Homo sapiens: one gene and its partners. The protein of the gene in region 1 interacts with the protein of each later gene in a biochemical or structural test. Each region holds a gene or a part of one and is shown on either strand. Other genes may lie near its edges. The genes, in order: USP9X, PSD4 and ALDH1A3.

Region 1 (3,654 bases):
ACATTTAAAATAGGAAATATATGGCTCAAAAAATCAGTTGAGGGAGAACTAAATAATCCTTAGGCACTTTGAAGACTTGAAATTTAAAATGTGCCACTTGTGTTCAGAAAAAGACCTCAAAATCACCATTATGTTGCTCTTGCAACAACATGCATCTTTAAATTTCTGGTTATACATTAATGCTTGAGTTAAATATAGAAAATAATTTGCACAAACAAAAATAACTCCACTTTCCCTTGCTCCTAGTCACAACGAATACCACTCTTCCTCAAATGGAGACAAAAATGACTCACAAGCCCCTCACCTGGCACAAGGGGGCTTGTAACTTCAAAGCAACCAAGGTTGGGCTCTTCCTCCAAGCAGAAAAATTCACAGCCTTTTATATGTCAAGTTTTCTCTCAACTAGGAAGTCGTTAAAGTTTTTAAGTACATTACATATTTTGTTAAGGAGCAGCAGGAAATATATAAATCTCCTCTCAGATGGTGAGATGGTACACCTAACTCATCCAAATAAAGTTAACCTATTTCACTCGTTTAAAGAGCTTGGAATTGAGGAACTTTTAAATTAAAAAAACTATCAACTGGGGCCAGGCGCGGTGGCTCACACCTGCAATCCCAGCACTTTGGGAGGCCGAGGCGGCCAGATCACCTGAGGTCAGGAGTTCAAGACCAGCCTGGCCAACGTGGTGAAACCCTGTCTCTACAAAAATACAAAAATTAGCTGGGCGTGGTGGTGGGCACCTCTAATCCCAGCTACTCGGGAGGCTGAGGCGGAAGAATCGCTTGAACCCAGGAGGCGACGTTGCAGTGAGCCAAGATTGTGCCACTGCACTCCAGCCTGGGTGACAGAGCAAGACTCCATCTCAAAGAAGAAAACAACAAAAAAATAAAAACAAAACAAAAATCAGTTGGAATTGCAAACACCGTGTGTGACTTTCACTCAAAGTATCGGTGTCAAAATGTCCTACAGGAACACCTAGAAGCACAGGTTGACTATACAGTACTACAAATAAGATACCCAAAGCTTTATCTTAAATACCTGCCCCTTTTAATCACAAAATAATGCAATGCTCAATTTTGTTTCTGCTTTGTTCAGTTCCAAGTGTAGCCTTTTGACAAAACATTTCCCTATTAACTGAATTGTAAAAAATACAACCAAGCTTGTGCTCATTAAATATACATGTATATAAAAAACATACAAAAAGTACAAGATTATGTTAGGAAACTTTTACAGTGTCAACATCCTGATTTCTCAAAATCTTCAGTAGAGGGCCAAAGGTCAAATCTTTCTGTGCACAAAAACTTGATGTGACTGAAATCCTGAATCAGTGTCATGCCTAGGCATGCTATGCACAGAATGAATTTTAATATGCAGTCCTCTTTTAAAAAAAAAAAAAAAGGACAAAAAAAGTAACCAAAAAAAAAACCAAAAACACACCACAGGACAAAAAGTTCTTCTTAAATCAAATTCTATTTGTGAATTCAGCAAAATAATTTCTATAAAATAAAACAGCAAAATATTTAAATAGAATAGGGTGGGCTGTATCTGTTTGCAGGGGTATTTGGTTTTTAGACAGGTTCCAAAAAATTACACACATTCAAGTTACCAATTCTCTTTTAAATACAGTATGAACTGAGGATTTCCTTATTTTTAATCAAATGTTTATTCTGAAATTGTAATATCTCAATTATATCAACCAGTAGTTTCTTTTTTAATGAGACCCTGCTTTGAACGTTAAACGTTTTGGAATAATGGAAAAGGAGCTAGGACAATTCTTGCTTTCAAGTAAAATTGTGACTGAGCAGAAAATCAGCCAGCTATCTTGGTGCAGAGAGGTACTCCAAGTACCGTGGGGTTCTGATGACTTCCACGTCACTGGGATCCAACAGAAGGAAAGTTTTAGAAGATTCACCTAATAAACTCTACCAAAGAAACAAAACAAGCACACCAAATACAGTCTTATATTATGCTCCAGCATCTTGGCATAGCAAATTTTTGCATATTTGTTTTAAATCTTTAAAAATTCCCATTACTGATACGTAAGTGTTCTTTATTCCACCCAGAGATTGAACTGTCAAACATTATATATAAGGAACATATGTGCAACTGAAAATAGACTGTCACATTTCTCCCCTTGTTTTATATTTTAATATTCTAGGTGTAAGAAGTAAAAGCTCTGAGTAATACAGCTGTCACTTCTCGGACAACTGCTGTCATTATGGTAACTTTTTCCTCATTGGCTACACTAACTTGGTGTGAAGCCATGCTAAATGTTACAGCATAACTATAGCTTCAAAGTGATTAACCTAATATCAGAATAAAAAGGCAATGAAAAAAATCTAGAAACAGTGTTACATCACCAATTTTCCACATCAACCAAATAATTTAAAGGTTACCAGCCTTACATTGCTCATAGCAAAATTGACTCCAGTGGCAAAGAATTAACATGAAACTATTGGTGTGGCTGACATGGATGGGCTCTGTTTTGTTGCTGTTGGTTTTTTTTTTTTCTTTTTTGTAAAGGAGCTGATCCAACTGCCATGAGGCAGGCAACACTGGTTGCAGAGTGCAGTGGGTGTAACAAGAAAATTAACTTTTGTAGTTTGTGTAGATCTGTGAGTCTCATCAAGAAAAAAGTTTCTTGCTTAAGAATTAACAGTCAACATTAATATACTATATACACCTTTGCCATTTACACATTAGCATCAGGCCATTTATTACAAAACACTATACACTTTCCACTGCAGGCGGGTTATATATTGACAGCAAATTTCTGCAGATAAGACAGTGAATAAACTCTCCACTCCATGTTGATTAGGAATAGTTTTTCTAGTTTTAAATATTAGCCAGACACAGAAAAAGGTTGGACTGTAAGGCCTGGGTGCACAGTCTTGATGGAACCAGTTAATTATGTGCATTTCATTGATCCTTGGTTTGAGGTGGGGATACTTCTTCACTGCCTTCATAATTTTCTTGTGCTCGTTGGCCAGTTCTCTGAGGGTTGTTCATGTGATGTGCTGCTGGGCCTGTATATGGCTGTCCATGCACATGGTTATTCTGGGAAAGGAGAAAAGATCTGTATGTTAAAACTTTTCACATAGTAAAACAACTTCAAAATCATGGTCTGAAGTCTCTGGAAATGTATACTCTTATTCTTGGGACTTACTCTGTAAATACCCTTGGACTACTATAGTGCAAAACAAAAACAAAAACAAAAACAAAAAAAGGCTTGAAAAACGTAGTGTAAATGCAAACCCCAAAACCCTGAATAAGAGCAGTGATTGTGTAGGTCCACATAAATCTTTGGCCAAAGTGATTTTTAGTGCCAAAAATTATTTAGACTCAAGTCTGGCAAATAAAGGATTAACCCACTGTTGCTCTTGGTAAAAAATTTTCAGAGAATGATCTATGAGCATCTATTGACTCTTCCACATGCTAAATCCGATTGACTAACCATGATGTAAGATATATAGGAGCAGTAACCCTGAACTCACAATAATGCTGATTAAAAACAGAACAATGTTCAAGATGATAAAGTAACCAGGCATGATTAACATAAGAGCTTTCTCAGGGTCAAAGGAAGTTAACCTTCCTTGTGGATTTGGTTCCTTAACCTTTTAAAATGTCTGAACCCTACAGTGCTCTCATTTTTC
Region 2 (3,654 bases), on another chromosome or scaffold:
AACAGGAAGCTAGGTGGGCTCTAGTAATGGCAGCAGCTGGGGTAGTTCAGGAGGTGGTCCTCAGCCTCTCCCTTCCCCCACCTAGCAGCCTGGATGACAAGGAGACTGAGTGGTGACCTATGACCCAGTGTGAACAGGTCCGGGTGACCCCCAGCCGACTCAGAACCTCCCAGTCCAGCACTAAGACTCTCAGATGTCACTCAATCCAATCTAAACCTGACTCTTCTGCTTCCCCCACAACGTCACAATCAGGTATTCTAGTTATTTAAGCATTCATTATCCAAGTGACACAGGAAGTTGAACCAGTAAGCAGGAGTCATCATAATATGAAAACGTTCCCTGATAAACAGACGAATAACATTAGGTTTCACTTAAGCACCCTCTCCACCTAACACAGACGGGTCAGGGTCTTTGCTGGTGACTTCTCACTGCCTCTTGAGGCTCATGAACACTACATAATGCAGGAGAAGCACAACAGAAGCTAACAGAAAAGTGTAAGTACAAATCCTGTCAAAAAACATGATTTCATAAGGTCTGTGAAAGTGATGTTGAAAGACCTCACAAGTCACGTGGAAAACCACTGACAAATCGGGAACCAAAAGAGATTGTCCAGTGAACAATGGAAGAGGAGAAAATAAAAATAAAGAATAAATTGTCACATCTAAAGAGAATTACTCGAAAAATCAACTGACGAAGCCCTAAAATATGCTTTTAAAAATGACCTAGTCAATTAGTGTTGTTACTAAAATAATACTTAGATGAGGGAGCACTTTGAAAAAAAAAAGTATGCAAATATAAATTATCATAAAATTGTACCCTTTATTTTTTTGTTTTGTTTTGGGACAGAGTTTTGCTCTTGCTGCCCAGGCTGAAGTGCAATGTTGCGATCTTGGCTCACTGCAACCTCTGCCTCCCGGGTTCAAGTGACTTTCCTGCCTTAGCCTTCCGAGTAGCTGGGATTACAGGCGTGTGCCACCATGCCTGGCTAATTTTTGTACTTTTAGTAGAGAGGGGGCTTCACCATGTTGTCCAGGCTGGTCTCGAACTCTTGATCAGACTTGTCTTGAACTCTCGAATCCACTCGCCTCAGTCTGTCAAAGTGCTGGGATTATAGGCCTGAGCCGCTGTGCCTGACCTCACTTTATTATTTTATTTTATTTTATTTATTTATTTTTTTGAGATGGAGTCTCACTCTGTGGCCCAGGCTGGAATGCACTGGCGTGATCTCGGCTCACTGCAAACTCTGCCTCCCAAGTTCAGGCCATTCTCCTGCCTCAGCCTCCCTAGTAGCTGGGACTACAGGCGCCCGCCACTGCGCCCGGCTAATTTTTTGTATTTTTAGTAGAGACGGGGTTTCCCCGTGGTCTTGATCTCCTGACCTCGTGATCTGCCCGCCTTGGCCTCCTAAAGTGCTGGGATTATAGGCGTGAGCCACCACGCCCTGCCTATTTTATCTTTTTAACTTGAATTTTCTTTTCTTTCTTTTTTATAATTTTTATTTCCATAGGTTATTGGGGAACAAGCAGTGTTTGGTTGCATGAATAAGTTCTTGAATGGTGATTTGTGAGGTTTTGGTGCACCCATCACCAGAGCAGTATACACTGCACCCTATTTGTAGTCTTTTATCCTTTAACCGCCTTTCACCCTTTACCCCTGAGTCTCCAAAGTCCACTGTGTCATTCTTATGCCTTTGCATCCTCATAGCTTAGTTCCCACTTATGAGTGAGAACATAGGATGTTTGCGTTTCCATTCCTGAGTTACTTCACTTAGAATAATAGTTTCCAATCTCATCCAGGTTGCTGTGAGTGCCATTAATTCATTCCTTTTTATGGCTAAGTAGTATTGAATCATATATATATATATTCAATAATATATATGCATATTCAATCATATATGTGATTCAATTATATATAATTGAATATATAATAGTATATATATATATATACACACACACATACACACCACAGTTTCTTTATGCACTCATTGATTGATCGGCATGTGGGTTGGTTCCATGCTTTTGTGATTGCAAATTGTGCTGCTATAAGCATAAGCATGTGTATGCAAGTATATTTTTCTTATAATGACTTATTTTCCTCTGGGTAGATACCCAGTAGTGGGATTGCTGGATCAAATGGCAGTTCTACTTTTAGTTCTTTAAGGAATCTCCACACTGTTTTCCATAGTGATTGTATGAGTTTATATTCCCACCAGCAGTGTAGAAGCGTTCCCTATTGACCTCATCCATGCCAACGTCTATTTTTTGATTTTTTGATTATGGACATTCTTGCAGGAGTCAGGTGTTATTGCAGTGTGGTTTTGATTTGCATTTCCCTCATCATTAGTGATGTTGAGCATTTTTTCATATATTTGTTGGCCATTTGTATATCTTCTTTTGAGAATTGTCTATTCATGTCCTTAGCCCACTTCTTGATGGGATTATTTGTTTTTTTCTTGTTGATTTGTTTGAGTTCATTGTAGATTCTGGATATTAGTCCTTTGTCAGATGTATAGATTGTGGAGATTTTTTCCCACTCTGTGGGTTTTCTATTTACTCTGCTGACTGTTCCTTTTGTCATGCAAAAGCTCTTCAGTTTAATTAAGTCCTGGCAATTTATCTTTGTTTTTATTGCATTTGCTTTTGGTTCTTGGTCATGAAATCCTTACCTAAGCCAATGTCTAGAAGGGTTTTTCCAATGTTATCTTCTAGAATTTTTATAGTTCCTGGTCTTAGATTTAAGTCCTTAATACATCTCGAGTTGTTTTTTGTGTAAGGTGAGAGATGAGGATCCAGTGTCATTCTCCTTCTTGTGGTTAGCCAATTATCCCAACACCATTTGTTGAAAAAGTGTGTCCTCCTTGTGGCTAGCCAATTATCCCAACACCATTTTTTGAAAAGTGTGTCCTTTCCCCACTTTATGTTTTTGTTTGCTTTGTTGAAGATCAGTTGGCTGTAAATTGTACACTTTAAATGAGTGAATTGGGCGGTATGTGAATTCTATTTCAAAACAGCTGTTATTATTATTATTTTTTTGAGACAGGATCTCACACTGTTGCCCAGCCTGGAGTGTGAGGTACAATCATGAATCACTGAAGCCTCAGCCTCCCAGGCTCAAGTGATCTTCCCACTTCAGCCTCCCAAGTAACTGGGACCACAGGCGTGTATCACTACACCCAGCTAATTTTTACTTATTTTTATTTTTTATGGAGATGTGGTCTCACCATGTTGCCCAGGCAGACCACAAGGCTGGTCTCCAACTCTTGAGCTCAAGCAATCCTCCCACCTCGGCCTCCCAAAGTGCTGGGATTATAGGCATGAGCCACTGCACCCAGCCTGTTACTGTTTTTAATGGCCTTTATGATCTTACTGTGAAAATCAAGGATGAATGCAAGATGTCTTATCCAGCCAGAAAACTTGTGCTGGGAAAATTAAATTTTAGGCATTGTGTTTACTATAAGATTTAAATAAACTTATTTGTACATTTACCAAGATAAAGCTCCAAGTAAACCTTTTCATTATTTACTATGAAAGTATGTTCTCATTTTAGTTAGATTTAGTTACTTCTATTTTGGGTTGGGTGAACTTTAATTTTTGGCATGAAGAAACTTCCCTTTTCAGAGGCTGGAACTTCTCTGGCTACCAAGCCTCTGAACCT
Region 3 (3,654 bases), on another chromosome or scaffold:
AAAGAGCTGGATCTTATTTCTCGTGGGCTGCGAGGTGCCAGTGGCAGAAGTGATTTGCTGGGTTTGCATTCTGAGATCCTCCAAAGCTGTCTGCTATCAAAACACAGTCGTGCCAGGACAATGGGGCAGCCTGAAGATGAAGGTGGCTTTGTAGCCTCTGCTCCTAAGATGATACTGACACTTAAGGACAGGGTTCAGGGCGGGGGGTGCCCAGGGCACATCCTCTCTAGCCTGCTATTAGTCCACACGGACATTGCCGACCGATGAGCTCATGCCGGGTGAAAACAGAAATGTTTTTGAAAAAGCCAGTTTGGCAGCTTGAGGGTTGACGCTGGCTTACGTTGCAGGAAGAAACCAGAGGCTCCTCAGAGAGAAGCGCTTACCCTGGGAGGGAGCTACTCTCACCCGGGGAACATGTGGACTGGCCGGGCTGACTGGGAAGGAAGGAAGGGGAGCTCGAGTTTCTGTGTGGATGCACCCTTAGGGAAATGCACCCAAGAGTACGGCCTGAGAGTTCCTCCACCCTGAGAAACACATTCAGGGGCAACAGCAATTTCCGTGTCCTGGCTGACACCCTCCTTTAAACAGTGGCTACCCTACTGCTTGTTCCCGACATCAGAAAAACCATTTTTCCAAATCAAAGGCCAGAAAGGAGATCTCCTCCCCTACAACCGGGCCTCAAGGTTTGGAACAACTTTTAAAAACAAGAGGCTGAGATGGGCAAGGACAGGATGCAAAGGACCTCATGGCCCAACGTGGCCCTGAGATGTCCTCTGATCACTCCCTCATGACCAGAGGAGGGTCTGAGGATCCTGCTAAAAAATGGACTTACAACTGATGAATGCCTTGGCAGCTCAGCCTCATGGGGTATGCTCCATCAATATCCCCACCTAGGGTATCTAGAAATTACTGGCCAGCAGTGCATGTAGGTGAGGTTAGAAAATGGGTCTTCACATGACCTCATTATGATAACTGCTATTATTAATGATAGCTGTCATCTATTTAGTGCTTACTGCCTGCCAGGGACTCTGCCTAGAATCTTAAATAGATCATTCTTACACCACTGAGTTATCATTATCGGTGACATTTTACATGAAGAAATAAATCTCAGAGAGGTTTCACAACTTGTCCAAAGTCACACAGCTAGTAAGTGGCAGAGTGGGGATTTGAACCCAGGTCTTTCCTATTCTGAGGTTTCCTATAACCAGGCTATCCTGCCCTCACCACCGCTCCACATATGCTCGCTACTAGCCAGTTCAGGGGTGACTGAGGAATGATTTTAGGTCACATGGGAACAATTTTTTCTATGTTAAGTGGTGGCATTTATTTTGGTAAGTATTAGAAAAATAAAATTAGCACATCAAACCTGTGATTTCATGAATATTGTTTCTTAGGATGAGATTAAACTTAAGTTTAAAAGGGAGTTAAGGCTGGGTGCAGTGGCTCACATCTGTAATCCCAGCACTTTGGGAGGCCAAGGCCGGTAGATCACCTGAGGCCAGGAGTTCGAGACCAGGAGTTCAAGACCTGGCCAACATGATGAAACCCTGTCTCTGTTACAAATATAAAAATTAGCCGGGCATGGTGGCAGGCACCTGTAGTCCCAGCTACTCAGGAGGCTGAGGCAAGAGAATCATTTTAACCTGGGAGGCAGAGGCTGCAGTGAGCCGAGATCGCGCCACTGCACTCCAGCCTGGGTGACAGAGGGAGACTCTGTCTCAAAAAAATAAATAAAATAAAATAAATAAAAGGAAGTTTATACAAAAAAGAAAAAAGTTAAGTACATAAACACACAGGTGGTACCAGGATATGGCCCAGCTCATGGTCACCAATCTGTGAGTGCCCCAAGTCTGAGACCACTGATGTAGCTCAACTGCCTATAGACAACAACTTGGTCAAGAAGCTGAGCTGCAGAGGACAAAAGTCTGACTTCAAAATGAAAGGGATTCAGTCTAGAGGCATTAACACCTGCAAGTATTGCCAGAGAGCCGTGTCTCAGAGGATGGAACAGACCCACGACCACACAAAACCAGGACCGTGATCTTTTTTCCCATACCCCATGGTGGACAGGACCCTCAGTGAGGCTGGCTCATCCCCCACCGGCCCCCAAGTGCATGTACTCACGGCCAAGGTGGCGCGGTCCCTCTCCACCAGGTCAGCCAGCTGGTGCAGCAGCCGCCCACGACTCAGGGCATCCAGCCGGCGCCATGGCGAGCCCCTCTGGAAGGCAACCTGTGCAGCCTCCACAGCCTTGTCCACGTCGGGCTGAGCGACCAGAACAACAGAGAGAGACTGTCATCTTTTGACGTGACTGCAGTTTGGGTGTCATCTTTTGACGTGACTGAAGTTTGGGTGTCATCTTTTGAGGTGACTGCAGTTTGGGTGTCATCTTTTGACGTGACTGCAGTTTGGGTGTCATCTTTTGAAGTGACTGCAGTTTCGGTGTCATCTTTTGAGGTGACTGCAGTTTGGGTGTCATCTTTTGAGGTGACTGCAGTTTGGGTGTCATCTTTTGACGTGACTGCAGTTTGGGTGTCATCTTTTGAGGTGACTGCAGTTTGGGTGTCATCTTTTGACGTGACTGCAGTTTGGGACCACGGCCATCAGTTATAGAGAACAGCAGATTGTCCCGCTGGCAGACAGGCTGCAAGCAGCAGCATGTTTTTCAATCACTTGAATGGCTGGGAGCGTTCAAGTGATTTTTTTTCTTCTTTACATCTTAATATTTCTACAGTGGCCAAATACCAATGTTTGTTTCTGATTATAAAAAGCATTTAAAAATATTTCCTAAAGAGTATTTTTCTCAGGGACCCAAGTACGGAAGGACTTTCCACTGGCTGCCTCAGTGTGAACGCACACGAGCCTGCTGTTCACAGATCAGGTGGGAAGTGTCTGCCTGGCATTTGATCCCAGCTGGGAACTTGTGGTCCAAGAGTGAGAATGGGGAAATTCCTTCCTTTCTGGATTGCAGAACTGACCATCGTGGAACAGTTCGCAGACAGGGAGGAGCATGAAGGCCGTTTTTCTCCCTTCAGCCTCACCCACCCCATGGGAGCAGAACTGGATCTTTTGTGCACTGATAGAATAATCACAACGGAACCTTCTTTCTAAAAGGAAAGAAGTGAGGGCCATTTAGAGTAGTGTCACTGTCTCTTTTTCTCAGGAAAATGGGCCACATTCATCTCGAAGGCCCCTCCATGCCTCTCTCTTTCTAGGAAGGTACAGCAGGGAGTGGATGTGGGACACCAGTCAGGAGTGACTCTACCGAGTCTCTGTGTGTCCAGAGCTGGCTTGGGGGTGAGCAGAAGCTTGGCAGGGGAGATGTGGGACACTGAATTTCTTCTCCCAGGCTCTGGGGTGGAGGCCAGGACCTTTCCAGCTGCAGAGGGTGTGGTGGCCTCTGGCTCAGAACAGTCACTCAGACCAAGGGAGAAATCAAGGCCCAGGGCAAGGGTCTCGTTCTCCTCCTAGCACCTGTACGGGGCACTTGGGAGTCTCCTAGTGGAAACCCCATTCCATGTCATGGCTTCCCCCCAATGCCCTCACATTTTTCTATGAGCTCCTCTGTGCCACTTTCTTTGTTAGCAGAGCCTAACTGTCATGAGGTGCCACACAGAGGGGGGTCTGTATAGGTGGGGCCAGTGTGCATTTGCA

The links.
Region 2: the proteins of USP9X (region 1) and PSD4 form a complex in vitro, tested with the Homo sapiens proteins (one study listed by BioGRID).
Region 3: the proteins of USP9X (region 1) and ALDH1A3 form a complex in vitro, tested with the Homo sapiens proteins (one study listed by BioGRID).

What each region holds. Positions count from the first base shown.
Region 1 is NC_000023.11:41,231,791-41,235,444, reverse strand, and holds part of USP9X (ubiquitin carboxyl-terminal hydrolase 9X), read right to left. Parts: intron 3,059-3,654; coding exon 2,921-3,058; 3' UTR 1-2,920.
Region 2 is NC_000002.12:113,187,422-113,191,075, forward strand, and holds part of PSD4 (PH and SEC7 domain-containing protein 4), read left to right. Parts: intron 1-3,654. UniProt on the Homo sapiens protein: Guanine nucleotide exchange factor for ARF6 and ARL14/ARF7. Through ARL14 activation, controls the movement of MHC class II-containing vesicles along the actin cytoskeleton in dendritic cells. Involved in membrane recycling.
Region 3 is NC_000015.10:100,886,183-100,889,836, reverse strand, and holds part of ALDH1A3 (retinaldehyde dehydrogenase 3), read right to left. Parts: intron 2,266-3,654; coding exon 2,125-2,265; intron 1-2,124. UniProt on the Homo sapiens protein: Catalyzes the NAD-dependent oxidation of aldehyde substrates, such as all-trans-retinal and all-trans-13,14-dihydroretinal, to their corresponding carboxylic acids, all-trans-retinoate and all-trans-13,14-dihydroretinoate, respectively.